Linked DNA regions of Homo sapiens: region 1 is linked to region 2. The links come from fine-mapping of genetic effects on gene expression. Tissue or cell type: whole blood. Region 2 holds a variant in brackets; the other region holds the start of a gene. All regions are shown on one strand. Distances are between the middles of the regions.

Region 1 (8,879 bases), 23 kb after region 2:
TAAGCACTGGGATTATAGGCATGAGCCACCACCCTGGCCTGCAATTTCAAAAAACTTTATAAACAGTCTGTTGTGTGCAAATTTTGCAATAAAGCTGACCAAAAAAAAAAAAAAAAAAAAAAAAAAACAACCCAGAAAACAAAAAACAAAAGTCTACTGCTTGCCTGGATATTTGTCTTATACTGTTAAATCATGAATCTCTGATGTTGAAAGACACAATATGCTATTTTAACTTGGACATATTAAATAAAGAAGTTTCCAAAACACCCAACTAACTATATACCGGTAATATAAAGTCCCCACTTATTGTAAGGGTGCCAAGTAAAGGAAGACCTCATGTATGAGAAAGTGTAAAGGCTTCTACATAATACAAGAAAATGCTACTTTAACATCTGAGGCCATCAAATTCTGTGCCTCTCCAGGGCTGCTGCTTCAGTGGGGTGAAAGGTACCGTTTCTCTCTTGCTACCCTCATTCGCAGCACATTCCGTATTTCTGCATCATCTCTGCATAAGCTTCCCAGGCTTCGGCAACTTGTTTGTCATCAGTGGCAGTGACATTCATCACTCTGAGGTGCTGCATGACCTTCGGGAGTGCTGTTTGCAACATCCATGCCCCCAGATGAGCAGCACCCTGGCTGAGCAGCTCCCCAATGTCGGGTGCATTTTTCTCTCAGCTCACTGCCACCCTTCACAGACACATCTAAGTGACACTGGTGGCCCCACAGGCCAGTCTCTACAGACATGCACTGCAGTCCAAGTAGATCCTGTTTCTCAGGCTGCCAAGGGCTCCTCCTCCTTTCAACCCCTCAGCTCCTAGACAGAGGTCCCCTCCCTCAAATTTGATCACATGCACCGGGCACACACCCTGCTCCACTAGGCCCAATTTTCCCCTGGGAGCCTCAGAGACACATCCCGTCACTAAAATAAGATTGAGTTCCTCAAGAATGTTATTCTCAGGTCTGTCCCACCTAACCAAATGCCTTCAGTTTTTGAATGTATTTAATGTAAAAACTCAAGCCATTTATTTGTTTAAAATACATCCCTAAGATCTCTGTCCATCTCATTACTCAATTTCTTAGTGGAGCAGTTACAACAGACAAAGTGTCCCTCGTTTCTTTTGGAGACAGCGTCTCACTCCATTACCCAGGCTGGAGTGCAGTGGCGCGATCTTGGCTCACTGCAACCTCTGCCTCCCGAGTTCAAGCAATTGTCATGCCTCAGCCTCTCAAGTAGCTGGAATTACAGGTGCATGTCACCATGCCTGGCTATGTTTTTGTATTTTGAGTACAGATGGGGTTTCCCCATGTTGGCCAGGCTGGTCTTGAACTCCTGACCTGAAGTTGATCCACCAGCCTCCGCCTCCCAAAGTGCTGGGATTACAGGCATGAGCCATGGCGCCCAGCAGCCCCTTGTTTAATGTGCTTGATAATGAGCCCTTCCTTGGTCCCCCATACTAACAGACCCTTTCACAATAGTGTGATGGTGATGAATGTGTAACACATGACCCAACTTAAGTATGATGTTGACTTTCTACTTTGGATTAAATCGGAGCCATTTAAAGCTGACTTTTGGTCCCACGAAAGAGCCCCTGTGCCTTACAAGGATCAAAATTGTAAAGGAAGGGGGAAAAGGTGGTTAAGTGTGGAAAATCCTTTCTGATCAACTTATTAAGCATCTGATCATCCAATAATGGACACTACTATGGAAAAAGCTAACCTTTGGGCTCCATCTTGGAAACAGCTGGATGTACATATAAGGACATGCCTTTTTGTTAAGTCTTGTGTTACTAATTGTCCCCCTTTTTAAGACAAAATCTACAACAAATTCATTCAACAACAGCAAAGCTACAAAGCCATCCAGGTTACCAGTTTCAGAAGACAAGCTTCAAAGCTGAACTCGCCACGTATGACCTACGTCTCACAGAACTGAAGACTACTCAAACACAGCAAGATTAATGAAGCAACGGAGATCTGTTTTGCAGTACAACGGCATTTAAACTACTGTTTCCAAATTTCTCACTTCAATAAGTTCATTTTATAAGATTAACGTCAAACTCAACTTTTATCAGCTAAAAAGAAAAGCATTAGTGATTTTTATATACCATGAGCATCATTTACTCCTCCCCACTGTTTAACAAATTTTAACTAGATAAGAATCTCCTTATGATTGATCTTTAAAAATCGCTTTTCACTTCTACATTAATATTAAACGTCGCTTATCATAACTTGATTCCAGGAATTGTATTCAAACTTAAGCCACAAAATTCAGGTTTTGTTTCAACAGCAATAGCAGTTTTTTTTAATATGCTAGTGGTCGGTCACAGAACTATTTCCACAAGTTGAACAGCTGTGTCTAGTGCAAATCTGAAGGCAGCGATGTAATTCAATTTGGACTCATTCATTAGAAACTGATTTTCAGATGCTACCACTGCAAGACTACTGGAGAAATGCAAGCTGCGCTGGAGATGGAATTGTTCGCAGCGGCACACAAGTTTTTGCGGCAAAGGAGAGAGCTCTAAAAGAGGAAATACAACTAGTTCATGTTACCATGAACCAGCGCAGTGGGACCCAGAATTACTGAATTAATAGAAAACTAAATACTTCTCTTAAGCAGCTATGATAACTTAAGAAAGTTTCCAGGGAAGCCGTTTAATGAAAGGAAACAAACAAAAAGATGATTTATTCAGTATCCTGCTCCATTTTTTTGAAAAATTGGAATTCCTACATTCCTTAATTCTTTGTACATCTACACTGTGAAAGCAACACAAACTCAAATGGAGATTGCAGCCCAAATGAACTTAAACCTGCTGTTTAACTTTCTTTTGAAGTTATACATGGAAATGAAACACACCACAGCAACTTTCATGACATCTTGCTAACGAAGTTTGGGTTTTGAAAAATGGAATGACTAGTTGACTAAAAACACACACGCGCGCACACACACACACACACACACACACACAAAACAAGGAGTTTTGAAAATAAGCACTAAGCATCTTTCCAAGGAACTCACTCATTCCAAGAAACTTCGGTTCTAACTCGCAAGCTGGCGGCTGCTGTGAGTGTCCTCTGAATGCAGCCTGGTCAATGTGTCGCCAATCCAGAAAACACACTGCCCTACCTTTGGCCGCGATCTTGCTTTCTCTAAGCATCAAAGGTACCCTCCGCTGTCATTCCTCTGGACGGCCACGCGTGTGGACACGGCCGCGGATGGATGCGTAGGACATTACCAAACAAACCCACACGCTGCACTTTACTTCTTCCCTCCTGGAGTGCCACTAGGGTCCCCGCGAGGAGGGCTGATCGGGTGCGGGGAGGCCGAGTGCACCGGGCGTGTGCTGACCAACTCGGGCCCAGTGACAGTCCTGCGACGAACTTCCACCCTCCCGCGCGGGGCGAGGGGAACGGGCTGCGGGGCCTGCTCCGAGCTCCCGGCTCGATCGGTATCCGCGACCACGACCCCCGGACGCTCTCTTTCAGGTGGGGGTGACAGCGCGCCCCGGGCCCCCGCCGCCCCGGACCCCCTCCTCACCTGTGCTGTCATTCGCCGAGAAACCGGGCGAGCTGAGTTTGGCTCTTTTGGGGTTGGGCGGTCCGTCCAGCAAGTTCTCAGCCATTTTCACCTGCTCGCGAAAACAGCCCCGGGCACGGGCGGCCGGGCCGGCGAGGGCCCGGACGGGGGTCGGGGGCCCTGCCGGCTGCGAGGGAGAGGAGCGAGCGCGGGCCGCGAGCGGGCGGGCGGGCGCCGAGGGAGAGGGAGGGCGCAGGCCGGGTGGGGGAGGCGGCGGCCAAATCTCAGCCACAGCAACAGCGCCCCGCAGCGCTCACCGCCCGCCCCCGGCCGCCGCCGCCGCCGCCGGCCGCGGCCCCCTCATCCCCTGCCCGCCTCCCGAGCGCGACACTCCGCGGTGGGGGCGCCCCGGCGGCCCGGCCGCCCCCCCGGGCCCGGCTGGCAGCGACGGCGCCCGGCCGGGCGGCTCAGGCAGTCCCCGAGAACATGGTGCCGCCGCCGCCGCCGCCTCGCTCCCCCCCCGCGCCCCACTTAATGAATTCGCTCGCGGCCCGACGACGAGGGGGCTCCGGGCTCCGCTCCCGGCCCGCGGCCCGCCGCCGCCGCCGCCGTGAGGAAAAACAATGCGCCGAGCGGGGTCGCCGCCGCCGCCGCGGCCCCCCCACCCCCCGTTCCGCCGCCGCCGCCGCCGCTGCCGCCGCCGCCGCCGCCGGGCTCCGGGAGGCCGAGCCGAGAGGCGAGCGGGGCCGCCGGGGCGGGCGCCGAGGGCCGGGCGGAGCGGGCCGGCCGGGCGGAGCGGGGTGCGCGGGCGGTTGTGGGGCCCGGGACCGGCGGGGCCGAGTAGATCGCGCTCGAAGCCCCGGTCGGGTCCGCGACAAGATGGCGGCTGTTGATTCCTCAATTAAAAAAAAAAGAAAGTTTTTTTTCTTCTCTTTCCAGAGCCTGAACGGGGAGGGGGTGGGGGCGGGGCACGCCGGTGCGTCACCCCCCCGCGGCGTCACCACGCACGGCCCCCGCCCCGCCCCCTCCACCTGCGCCGGCCGTGGCGGAAAGAGCCGAGCGTGCTCGGGCCGAAGGGCTGAAGGCGCGGCCGCCAAGCGTAGGGAAGCTGGCGGCCCGGCGCGGGCCAGGCCTGCGGGGCGCCTGGGCTCCGGGCTGAGCCACAGCTTTTGTTCTGATGGCGACCAGGCGTAGAGGGCCGGGGCTCCGGGCCCCAGCGGGCTCCGGGAGCGGCGGCCTGGCCGCGGGCTGGGCTCTCGGGCGCGGATTCGACGCCAGCCCGGGCCCGCCCGTCCCGCTGGGGCGGCGCTGCGTGTTCCCAGCTCCTCGCGTCCCCTTCCCCAGACCCTCCTAGGTGGCGTCGGTCGGGAACGGTCGGGGCGACCCCAGCCCAGGCCGCGCCACTAGCCTTCGCCGCCGGCCAGGGAAGTGGAATGGCCTCTGCAGGTTACAGACCGCCCTTGGGTCCTGCCGACGAGGTGGGCGGATGGGGAAACTGAGGCGGGGGGCGAGCAACTGCTCCAAAGTGGTCGAGGCAGGAAGTGGCAGGGCCGGGATTCGGGTCCCGCCCTACCTCGTGACACTAGGGAGTGAGGGGGCCTCACGCCTGTTCGCATCCCAAGGCGGCAGGGCAGACACCCTCACCTGTGAGAGCGGGGTGGCGAGGGCCGGCCTGGGCGGAGAAGGGCCCGCGCATCGGGGCTTAAGCCTGGACGCTCAGGCCGCACTCCCCGCCCCAGGCAACTTGCCTGGCGCCTCGCAGGTGCCCCAGACAGGGGTGCGGGCCTGGGGAGTCCCCCACGCGAGACCACAGCCCGCGGGACACTTCTACGAATACCCGAGGTGTTCCCATCCCAGTTAGTTATCTGCCCCTCCAAACTTGCCCGGCTTCCTCATAAAGGTATCAGCAGCTCCACTGTTTCCTAAGCCAGAAACCCGTGAGTCAGCGCGGACTCCTCCCTCTCACCCGCCACGCGCCCCTCTACCCACGGTCTTTACCTGGGAGACTGCTCCTCCCGCACTGTCCCGGTGGCTATGGTGGCAGCTACTCACTTAAGTGTTCTTTGCTCTCCACGTTGCTCCCCACGCAGCACCAGAGTTAACATCCCGAAAAGAGAGGGAGAAAATCTGTTTAAAACAACTCCCTGGCCAGGCGCGGTGGCAGATCACCTGAGGTCAGGAGTTCAAGACCAGCCTGGCCAACATGGTGAAACCCCATCTCTACCAAAAATACAAACATTAGCTGGGCGTGGCGGCGTGCGCCTGTAATCCCAGCTACTCGGGAGGCTGAGATGCGAGAATCACTTGAACTGGGGAGGCCAGTAAGCCGGGATCTCGCCATTGCACTCCATCCTGGGCGACAAGAGTGAAACTCCGTCTCAAAAACAAAACAAAACAAAACAAAATCCCAGACATAGAAAAAGAAAACACTACATAGTCTTTCTTTAAAAAAGAACACGTATGAATTCTCTTAAAAACATAGGTGTATGTACATATGGTGACTGTCCTTGAGTGTCAAGATTGAGTGATCGTTCTGCTTTTCTCTGTTTACCTGTACTGCTCAAAATCTTGGGCCGTGATACCGCTCTTGAATCTGTCTCTTCTACTTTACATGGCTCACTTCACCATCATCATCCTACACCCACTTGGCCAGTAGGCAGTTCACATCATTCAGGCTTTTTTTTTTTTTTTTTCAAATGCTGGTCCCTGTGCTGAGAAGACATGCCTGGCAAATTCTAACTCATCCTCCAGAACCCAGTTCAAATGTCACCTACTCCAGGAAGCCCTCCTAGCCCACTCCTCGGCTCCCATATCACTTCTGGGCTCTGTGAGAGAACACATAACACATCCTGCCCCATCTTCCCCGCCTCCACTGCCCCCGAATTAGTTCATGTTTTTACTTATGCATCAAATAGCTCTTGAGAATCCCAAGGGCATTGAGACTGTGCTAATCCCCTTGGCCAAACATAAAGAGATCCCCATATATTCAAGGAGTTAAAATAGCACACCCTGGAAGCCATAAATGGAAGTATTCAAGAAGTCAGTTTGCACAGGAATGGCAAGAAGTGTATCAGTGGCACAGGGCAGGCCACACCCTGTATCTGAATGCTCTGGGTGTCCGTCTCACCAAGGGTCTGTGAGCTCCTTCGGGGCAAAGATGGTGTCTTAGTCACAGAAACAGTGCTCTGCAAGAAGAAGTAGGTTTGTAAAACTGAATGAGTGATGAGCTGTGTCAGGTGCTCTGAGTCCTAGAGGCCTTCAGGCCACTGAAAAGGGTGGGCCCCAGCCTGAGGTGGCTCCAGGCCACTCTTCAAACGGGACAAGGTGTCCAGCCACCTAGAGGTCTTAGGGCCTGCCTTGGGGCAGTGGAGACACCATGCAGCCCCCCAGGGGTCCATTGGTGAGTGGTTTACACAGAAGTGGGCACAGGAGCTTGAGCCATTCCCTGACAGGTTTCCATTTTACAGAGGAAAGCAAGGGAACTCAGTCGCAAGGACTCAGAAGTAAATAACCCGGACATGGCAAGTCTGGGCCTGGAACCCATGTCCTCACTCTCCAAAGACCCTAGTCTTCCTGTCTCACCATGTTCCACCCTCAAAATATACCGGCTCTGCAGTCCCTTTTTCTGTCTCATTGTTCTCACCTGTATCATTTTGATCAATTCTGGTATTCACTGATACCTGTTTTTTCTTTCCTTTCGATTTCTTCTCCCTTCAGTCTGACTCAAAGAACCCTGAGCTCAGACACTGATGGGGGAATAGCAAGGAGGGAAGCGTGGCTCCTGCCTGCACTCACTTAGCTGGGGATCACCTTCAACAAGTGAGTGCCTTAGGGATACCAGGCCGCTCTGCCATGCCTCCCATGGATAGCACTTCCTACAATCCTGGAAGGAAAAATTGTCCTCATTTCACAGATGAAGAAATAAGGCACAAAGGAGGACAAGCCACCCAGCCACGAAGGGGCTTCACTCCGGTGCACACCTAAGGCTTCCTGCTCTTTCCACAAACCTCACCCTCTCCAGTCTCAGATACCACATTAAAAAACAATCAAAGGACTGGGCATGATGGCTCATGCCTGTAATCCCGGCACTTTAGGAGGCCGAGGTGGAAGGATCTCTAGAGCCCAGGAGTTTGAGACCAGCCTGGGCAACAGTGAGACCCTCATCTCTACAACAAAATGTTAAAAAGTGAACTGGGCGTGGTGGCATGCACCTGTAGTCCCAGCTGCCTGGGAGACCAAGGCAATAGGATCACTGGAGCTCAGGAGGTTGAGGCTGCAGTGAGCTATGATCAAACCACTGCACTCCAGTCTGGGCAACAGTGAGATACTGTCTAAAAAAAAAGAAAAGAAAAGAAAAGAAAGAGAAAGAAATGGAATTGGAATTGTTGGCTGGATGCGGCGGCTCACGCCTGTAATCCTAGCACTTTGGGAGGCTAAGGTGAGTGGATCACTTGAGGTCAGGAGTTCGAGACCAGCCTGGCCAATAAGGTGAAACCCTATCTCTACTAAAAGTACAAATAAATGGCTGGGCATGGTGGGGGGGCACCTGTAATCCCAGCTACTTGGGAGGCTGAGGCAGAATTGCTTGAACCCGGGAGGCGGAGGTTGCAGTGAGCCAAGATCGCACTCCAGCCTGGGCAACAAGAATGAAACTTCGTCTCACAAAAAAAAAAAAAAAAAAAAAAAGAAATGGAATTGTTGCAATTTGATATTGATTGTCCCTTTCTAGGCTTAAATAGATTAAAAGATAGCATCAGGTTTGGACTTTGCCTTCAAGCGATGCAGAACAGCATTGGGGAGAAAAACACAAACAGGACACACATTGAAAAGATAAGCAGAGAATCCAAGTCAGAATAGCACAAAATCATAATAACTGATCCCCCAGGGGTGGGAGTCCCGGGGTTGGGGGGCAGAGGCCTGGGGGAGTAGTCCCAGGAAGGCAGGATTCCAGCCAGTTCCTGGTGGACAGAAGGCAGAATGTGGTCTGGTGGTGTGGAGGGATCCAGACAGAGCTAGGTTCAAGTCCCAAACCTACTGCTTTTTCTTAGCTGTTTTGAAAACAAATACCTCGGCCAGGTGTGGTGGCTCACACCTGTAATCCCAGCACTTTAGGAGGCCAAGGCGGGCAGATCACCTGAGGTTGGGAGTTCGAGACCTGCCTGACCAACATGGAGAAACTCCATCTCTACTAAAAATACAAAATTAGCCGGCCTTGGAGGTGCATGCCTGTAATCCCAGCTACTCGGGAGGCTGAGGCAGGATAATTGCCTGAACCCAGGAGGCGGAGGTTGTGGTGAGCCAAGATTGCACCATTGCACTCTAGCCTCGGTAACAGGAGCAAAACTCCATCTCAAAAAAACAAAAAAAG
Region 2 (8,879 bases):
GTAATCCCAGCACTTTGGGAGGCCAAGGCAGGCAGACGATCTGAGGTCAGGAGTTCAAGACCAGCCTGGCTAATATGGCGAAGCCCTATCTCTACTAAAAACACAAAAATGAGCTGGGCGTGGTGGCAGGCGCCTGTAATTGCAGCTACTCGAGAGGCTGAGGCAGGAGAGTCGCTTGAACCTGGGAGGTGGAAGTTGCAGTGAACTGAGATATCGCCATTGCACTCCAGCCTGGGCAACAAGAGCGAAACTCCGTCTCAAAAACAAACAAACAAACAAACAAACACACACACACACACACACACGAAAAAGAAAAGAAAATTAAAACCTTTTTTCTGCATGGTGGCAGACCCTAATGTCTGCTCACCCAATACCCCTGGCCCCATGCTGCTGGCAACACCCACATGATCTGAAGTGGCTGCCTGGGAGGTTCCTCTGAGGAACGTTCCCTGGCCACAGGAGGGAGAGTAACCAGATAAGCCCACCACCACGATCACGTTCCCCTTTGCAAGTGACACAATCTCAGCTAAGGGAATCTGAAGGTACACTGAACCAGGACCATTGTGGAAAAGGTGTTCCTTCCTCACAGCAATGGATGCTCAGAAAGAAATCTCCCTCCTCTTCTTCACCAGATCTCGTCATGGGCAGGTGACAATCACCCTGTAGCCAGGAGAGCAGACACCACTTGCATGCTAAGGATGGCTGTAGCCAAAAACATAAACACCTGGGGTGGGGAGATCATCTCTGAACTGCTGAGTGATGCAACCCTAGTACTTCCCCACCTTCAAACTTCATGTTATGTGAGAAAATACACTTACTATCACTTAAGCCATTTTAGCTGGAGTTTAACCTCACCCTAACCCTAACAGACCCATCATGTCTATGGAAGAAGTTCAAACACCTTCTCATGGCACGTGAGGCTATCTTCTTGGCCTTCCTTTACAGGACAACACCAGATGCCCCCTACTTTCCAGCCACAACACTGAGAGCTGGCACAGGCATTGGGAATCTTTCTTCTTGAATCTCTCATTCTAAAACTCACCTCAGTTCCCACTCAGATTAAACACAGCAACTATGAAGACTTTCTTTGGGCTGCCCCTGCAGAACAGACCAGTCCCTCTTGTCAGTCTAGAAAACCACGTCTAACACACACTTGTTATCTTCCCACCTGTCTGTAAGGAATGAGATGTGATTTAGGAGTGTGTACATGCATGTAACAGTTTTTGAAGAAAAACCGAGACTGAGAGTAAGTTGCAGACGAAATAACACTGTTCTCCTAAGTACTTCAGTACGTATCTCCTAACAACATCCTCTTACATAATCACAGTATGCATGTGCAACTCAGGAAATGTAACACTGATACAATACTGAATATACTGCCCTTACTCAAATTTTGCTGGTTGTCCCAATAATGATCTTTATCACACATCTGTCTCTTCAAAATGACATGTCCTATAGCCATGAGATTACAAGATCCAAGATCTAATTCAGGATCATGGTGCATTTAATTGTCATGTCTTTGTCACCTTGTTTAATCGAAAAAGGATCAAAGGTTCCCTGGCCTTTGTCTTTCGTAAGTGACATTTTATTCTTATTTGTTTATTAGACAGAGTCTTGCTCTGTTGCCCACGCTAGATGGAGTGCAGTGGCACGATCCAGGCTCACTGCAACCTTTGCCTCCCGGGTTCAAGCAATTCTCCAACCTCAGCCAGAATAGCTGGGATTACAGGCGTGCACCACCGCACCCGGCTAACGTTTGTATTTTTAGTAGAGACGGGGTTTCGCCACGTTGGCCAGGCTGGTTTCGAACTTCTGACCTCAGGTGATCCGCCCGCCTAAGCCTCCCAAAGTGCTAGGATTACAGGCGTGAGCCATTGCACCCGGCCATAACTGACATTTTTGAAGAATAGAGGCCAGTTGTTATTGTAGAAGGTCCTTCAATTTGGGGTACCTCCTCATGGTTACAGGGCATGTCATTTTGAAGAGAAAGGAATCTGATCCCGGATACAGCAGACAGTTCCATGAGGGCACAGGGCCTGTACCTGGTGAAATAGGTCTCAACATGCTTCTGAGGGTTCCAATCCATAGTTTTTACGCTATTTTGCTATCCTAAATTTGGAGATTCACTGAGGTGTCCAGACACAAACTGTACAATATTTATTAAATATGTATTAAAAAGTCCTCTCTATCATAACTACTGTTTTGTTTGTTGCCCTCCAGGCTTTGTCCACCTGCACACACAAATTTACTCGGTACTCCTTAATAAATATTTTTGTCCAACCCAAATGATAAACGTTTGAGGTGGTAGATATCCTAATTACTATGATTTGCTCATTATGCATTGCATGCATGTTACAAAATATTCTGTAACCCCTTAATATATACAATCACATGTCAACTACAAATAAAAGGAAAAAAGAAAATATGTACCCCCCCAAATAACAACATTTTATTTTTTATTTTATGTTTTAGAGATAGGGTCTTGCTCTGTCACCTCTGTGCAATGGCACAATCACAGCTCACTGTATCCTCAAACTCCTGGACTCAACCAATTCTCCCGCTTCAGCCCCCTATAGCTGGGACCACAGGTGTGCCCCACCACAAACAGCTCATTTTTTATTTTATTTTTAATTAATGAATTAATTAAATAATTATTTTGACAGGGTCTTGCTCCGGCACCCAGGCTGGAGTGCAGTGAAGTTGCAGGCTCAATGCAGCTTCCGCCCTGCACCAAAACACCCACCTGATTTTTGTACTGTTTTGGAGAGACAGGGTTTCGCCATGTTTCCCAGGCTTGCCAGCTAATTAAAAAAATTTTTTTTTGTAGAGATGGGGTCTTGCTATGTTGCCCAGGCTGGTCTCAAACTCCTGGCCTCAAGAAATACTCCTACTTCAGTCTCCCAAAGCACTGGGATTACAGGCATGAGCCACTGCAGCCCAAAATAACTACTTTTAAAAATGCAGTGTTCCTTAACTGATGAGCATGAAAATGAAACTTCATCTAAACCAGGAACTGGAGCCATTACCATTAGAGATCAGCTCTCCTTCCTTTCTGTCCAGGGCGAGGATGAAGAGACCGTGTCAAGCACTGTAACCCAGAAGCAAACAAGGGCCAAATATTTTATATTTAAGTTTGGAAAAATCTGCAAAAGGCGACCTAACTGGCTATTTTGAACATCCCTAAGCACTCTTCCTAGGAGAGGGAGGCCAGGCCACAGAAGAGCAGATAAACTCAGAGAGTACTTAGTGAAACCCAGGGCAGGGCTGGCCTCAGTGTAGAACAATGGGAACAGAACAGCTGGAAGCTGAGCACAGGAGTTGAAATCCTGCATCCTTAGGCAAACTGCTTCATCTCTGCATCTTCATACCCTCACCTGTAAAACAAGGGTACCAACGCCCCAGAGTTAAAAACTTCACCCATCATCCTGCCACTCTCAGAGCTATCAGTTTTCATTTATGGTTTATTCTAGTTCTTATCAAATTCACAGGCAAGTTTCAAAGTTGTAAGCAGGGCTTATGTCCTGGGCTAGTGTTTTTGTTTTTCACTGGTCTGCTACACTCTGACCACCGTGACCACTTTTTCATCCTATTTCAGTCCAAATACATATACCAGCTGTTTGGGTGAAGGCAGAGTTAGACAAATTCTTCTTCTGTAATTCACCATATGAATATGTGTAAAACCAAATATACAGGTGTGGCTTTTTAAAAGGCAAGATAGGGCGCACACGTAGTCGTACCATCACCCTTCTGTTTACCACTGTCACCACATTTCCATATTCCCTAGTTCAGCAAAACTGACAAAGGGGAGTGAAGGAGGCAGGCCAGGATATTGCAA[C/T]ACAACACAGCTTTGCTTTCTACACACCAAAGTGTCCCAACACATGGGTTAAGCAAGAGCAATCTGTATCATCGGAAGTTCCTAAGGTTCACGATTGACAGCGATCCAGTCCCAGGTAAGCCCTCTTCTCTCTGACCGTTACCAGGGGGCCCGGGAGAATGCAAAGAAAAGGAGACTGTGGGCACCCTGCACCCAGAGCATTTGCACCTCAAGGAAACTTCACCAGCCGATATCAAATAGCGAACACTGCCTGTCATACTTCCATAGCTAGGGAAAGGAATTTTCCCTTTTGCAGCTTCCTGGCTGCCAACCAGGAGGCTACCCCTTTCATTAAGCTGAAATGAGAGAAAAGAGAGGCTACACATTTCCCCATTTCTATCACACTCATACGAGGCTGGGAAGACCCAGTGAGGAATGAGGAAAATAGTAGGGACTTAGGAAGGAGAAAGTTACAGCCAAACTCAGCCAGCCTCAGGAAAGGCAACTGTTTACCAAGCAAGGTACAGAGGACATTCACTTCTATACTAGGAAACCCAAGCCGGTGGTCTGCATGCAGACTGTTAGGTGGGGATCACTCCTAAACACTGAAAGACAAATGGTACCTACATCTGTTCCAGGATCCATTCTTAATAATGATGATCAGAAATCAGCATTTCACCTTAAGCAAGGAATGAACTACTAGAATCAAACACCAGGTGGGTGGCTAAATCAATCTGTGCAGCCAATAACATTTGAAAACAGCCTCATCTGAAAAAAATTTCAAAGCCATCAGCCAAAGTATCCACAAAACACACCTTTCTTCAGGTTTTCTACAGCCTCCTCTTCCATAATACCTTATTTTCTTCTTTGAATTCCACTTGGAGCCCCAGATTATTTGTACTGACAGGACTGGTCTATCACACCTTCTCCTGGAAATAAGAACTCTTTTATGCTCCTACAGACACAATGCGTTAAAATTATGCTAACAATTTCACGTTATAACGTGCGTGGGGCTGTAAGCTCCCTGAAAGCAGGGATCCTGTCTTGCTTATCTACTCAGTGCCTAGCATAAAATGCTTCGTATGTACTAGGCACTCAATAAACCCACGTGCTGAATGAGTGCTCACATTATAGAGGATACACAGTATCAACAAGCTGCTTGTCTAGTCAAAGATATAAAGCAGTAATCTTAATGTTTACTACTACTTTCTGAAAACAGAAACAATAACGAATTCTCTAGAAATATTACACTGGGTCATCTTTCTCTTTAAGACTTTTTCCTATTGCCCTCTTTACCTTTTAGGGGACCACCCAAGTATATTTCACTCTTTGGCTACAAACTCAGCATCAATGAACCCCAACCCTAGAATTGATACACAGATTAAATGGCATAATGTAGGATGAGCAACAGTAGTGTAAGAAATAAGCATGTAAGAGTTCAGATGCTGTTTTGTGATGTGTTCATACTTCTCTGCTTTCCCTCCCACACATATTTTCTCTTCCTCACCCACTCCTAATTTCTCTCTCACATCCCTATTTCCTGTGAAAAAGGTCTCCTTTCTTTAGATTTTTTTTTCATGGTTTCTTTAGATTGTCTTTTGCATTACTTTTGTAATACTGTGACTATGTATTTGGTCTTCCACCCTGTCTCCTGGCATACAACTCCTAAAATCCTTGGAATCTCCAAAATAGAATTTTTATTTTTTATTTTTTTATTTTTATTTTTTTTTGGCTCTGTCGCCTAGGCTAGAGTGCAGTGGCACGATCTTGGCTCACTGCAGCCTCTACTTCCCGGATTCAAACAATTCTTCTGCCTCAGCCTCCCAAGTAGCTGGGATTACAGGCGCATACCACCACACCCGGCTAATTTTTTGTATTTTCAGCAGAGACGGGGTTTCACCATGTTGGCCAGAATGGTCTAGAACTCCCAACCTCAGGTGATCCATCCGCCTCGGCCTCACAAATTGCTGGGATTATAGGTGTGAGCCACCACACCCAACCAGTAATGTCTTTTCGTATGCTCACGAATTGACTGATGGCTGGCAGCTCCTAGGTAGCTTCGGACAGGAGCTGGTCACCAGGAAGACCAAGGCATGACTGATTAGAGGACTGGGACTTTCAGCCCATCCTTAATTTCCAGGGAAGGGAGAGATACTAAAGCTTAAGTTGATCACCAACGGCCAATGGTTTAATCAATCATGCCTATGTAATGAAGCCTCCATAAAAACTCACAAGTACAGGGTTCAGAGAGCTTCCAGATAGCTGAACACATGGAGGTTCCTGAAGAGTGGCACACCTGGACGGGGCAAAAAGGCTACATGGCCCTCTCACACGCCTTGCCCTATCACCTGATATTCAGTGGTATCCTTCATAATATCCTTTACAATAAAAAACCAGTAAACATGTTTCCTTGAGCTCTGTCAACCGCTCTAGTAAATTAATTGAACCCAAGGAGGGGCTTGTGGGAACCCCATTTATAGCCAGTCAGAAGCACAGGTAAAACAACTTGGGGCTTGCAAATGGTGGGGGGCGGGGGCAGTCTTGAGGACTGAGCCCTCAACCGTGGGATCTGACACCATCTGCCTGTCAGCTGGCGTCTGCTGCAGCACCGAGTGCCTACTCGGTGTGTGTGTGTGGCTGGGGGCATCTCCACAAATCTGGTCCCAGAGGTGTTCTGTGTCGACTGTTGACACTGAGTATAGGAATAAAGGAGTATAGGAGAAACCTGATTTTTCCCTACATCCTCAGACTTGTACTATAGCCCTGACTACTCAAATGCTTCTATTAAATCTTTCAAAAGCTAAACATTTTTATTCACCTATTTACCTACCCTCGAAAAACTTCCAAAAGGAATTTTTTTTAAGAGATGGGGTCTGTGTTGCCCAGGCTGGAGTGCAGTGGCCATTCACAAGTGTGATCATGGCTCACTGTAGCCTCAAACTCCTAAACTCCTGGACTCAAGCAATCCTCCTGCCTCAGCCTCCCAAGTAGCCAAGACTGCTGGCATGTGCCACTGTGGCTCCAAAAAGAATTTTTAATTTCTAAGTTAACGGACACAGGAAGAGGTAATGCACATGTTAATTGGCTCAATTTAGCCAATCCACAATGTATAGATATTTCAAAACATCATGTTGTATATGATAAATACATACAATTTTTATTTGTTAATTAAAACAAAATTTGAAGGAAAAAAACTACATACAAAAAACTTGATCCAGCAAGGGCAAAGCATCCTGGAAAAGTTCACTCCTAGAGATGAGGAATCTAGAGAGTGGTGGAAGGATTCACAGTGTTGTTATTATTATTGTTAAATGACCTGGAGGCCACACTACGCTCTCGGTGTGTTTACTGATCTATTACTAATTAGACACTACGGACACAGGAAGTGCAGTCTGGTGTAGTGAGAAGAGTACTCAACCAAGCCCTGGTTCAGATCACAGCTGTCACCACAGCTACTGCCTCCCTGTGTACCCCTCCTTAGCTCTAAAATGGAAGGACAGCTGGGTGCAGTGGCTCATGCCTGTAATCCCAGCACTTTGGGAGGCAGACAGGTGGGTCACCTATGGTCAGGAGTTCGAAACCAGCCTAGCCAACATGGTGAAACCCTGTCTCTACTAAAAATACTGAAAATTACAAAAAATTAGCTGGGCGTGGTGGCAGGTGCCTATAACCCCAGCTACTCGGGAAGCTGAGGCAGGAGAATCACTGGGAGGTTGCAGTGAGCCGAGATCGCGCCATTGCACTCCAGCCTGGGCAACAAGGGCAAAACTCTGTCCCAAAAAAATAAATAAATAAAATAAAATAAAGGACAGTAGCACCTGCTTCGCAGGATCGTTGATGAAAGAATTAAACCATACAGCATTTAGCACTGAGCTTGGCATGCAGTAAGGACTCAAAAAATATTAGTCATTACTATCACTGTCCCAATCCCATCTCCCAAGGCACCTATGAGGGCTGAACCAGCCAAAGCCTTTAAGAACCTGGCACTCCAGGGTTGGTACAGAGCAGGCGCTCAACAGCCGCCACTTATCAATGGTAGTGACTTGCTAATAAACTCATCCCTGCTGATCTGTGGCAATTCTAGTAGAATTAAAGGTTACTTTGCTTTGAAAGTTCTTGGGGATTATGCAAATAAATATAATGGAACAACTCTCTATACCAAAAAAAAAAAAAAAAAAGAAAGAGAAAAGCTGTTTTATTAATATTTATGCCATCGTAAGTAATTTTTATCTAGGCATTTAAACAAGTTCCCAAAAGACATCTAACTTTTTTTTTTTTTTTTACAATGACTATTAGGAAATAATTAAAGCAACCTCCTTCTAAAATCTTCCGTAATTCAGGCTTCTTTTATGCAGACACACCAATCCCTAATTAGAACAGAACAATGAGGTTGTACTTCATTCTGAACAGTGATCTTATCTTGAGTAAGTCTTGCCCCTCCTCAGAATCACTGATCTGCTGAAGAGCCAGAGAGCTCGGCCGGCAGCCCCCACCCTCTCCTCCCCAGGAGAAGGAAGCGAGTCACTGCTCAGGGGCCCTCACTCGGTGCAGGACCGGCTGGGTTTGAGATAGAATAGAAGTCGGCCTCCCCAGAGGACTGTACTCTAATTGAGGAAGACAGCCAATGGACACCAAGCCACAAACTTAAATTAACACGTATGTCATATTTTACAGCCAAGTGGAATAAGGCAGTGAACAAAAGTAGGAAAGGCTTCAAATAAGAGGCTCTGAGCAGAAGTTTAGAGGAAAAGGACACTGACAACTCCAAAGAGGCAGGGACAGAAGACAGCAAGACAGGCAGGCAGAGATGGCTGCTCTGCTGTGGGGAACTTCAAGGGAAAAGCTCCAAGATGGCAGGAGCCCCAGGGTAGGTACAAGTTCCATACGGTGGGAAGGGCCTCACTACGGTAGGCAGGCTTGCTCTGTCGCCCAGGCTGGAGTGCAGTGACACAATCTCGGGTTATTAAATTTGGGTTTAATAAACCGAATTGTCTTAAAACCCTCAACACAGCACTTACATTTATACTAGAGCTTAGAATTTGGGTTTTCTTGTTTTCCTGTCATA

Evidence for each region.
Region 1: it holds the start of CREBBP, and the variant in region 2 is fine-mapped to the expression of CREBBP in whole blood (TOPMed, PIP above 0.99).

What each region holds. Positions count from the first base shown.
Region 1 is chr16:3,876,300-3,885,178 of GRCh38, forward strand. It overlaps CREBBP (CREB binding lysine acetyltransferase), which reads right to left and starts at 4,414. Exons shown (of 31, transcript NM_004380.3): 1 at 3,533-4,414. The coding sequence starts at 3,617. RefSeq lists silencers at 3,403-3,452, 3,533-3,582, 3,623-3,932, 4,270-4,319, 4,340-4,889 and an enhancer at 4,093-4,669.
Region 2 is chr16:3,853,679-3,862,557 of GRCh38, forward strand. All of the region lies in intron 1 of CREBBP (CREB binding lysine acetyltransferase), which reads right to left. Among named protein-coding and RNA genes, the nearest start is that of CREBBP, 23 kb to the right of the region's middle. RefSeq lists a silencer at 6,209-6,393. The variant C/T (reference allele first, on the strand shown) is at 3,836.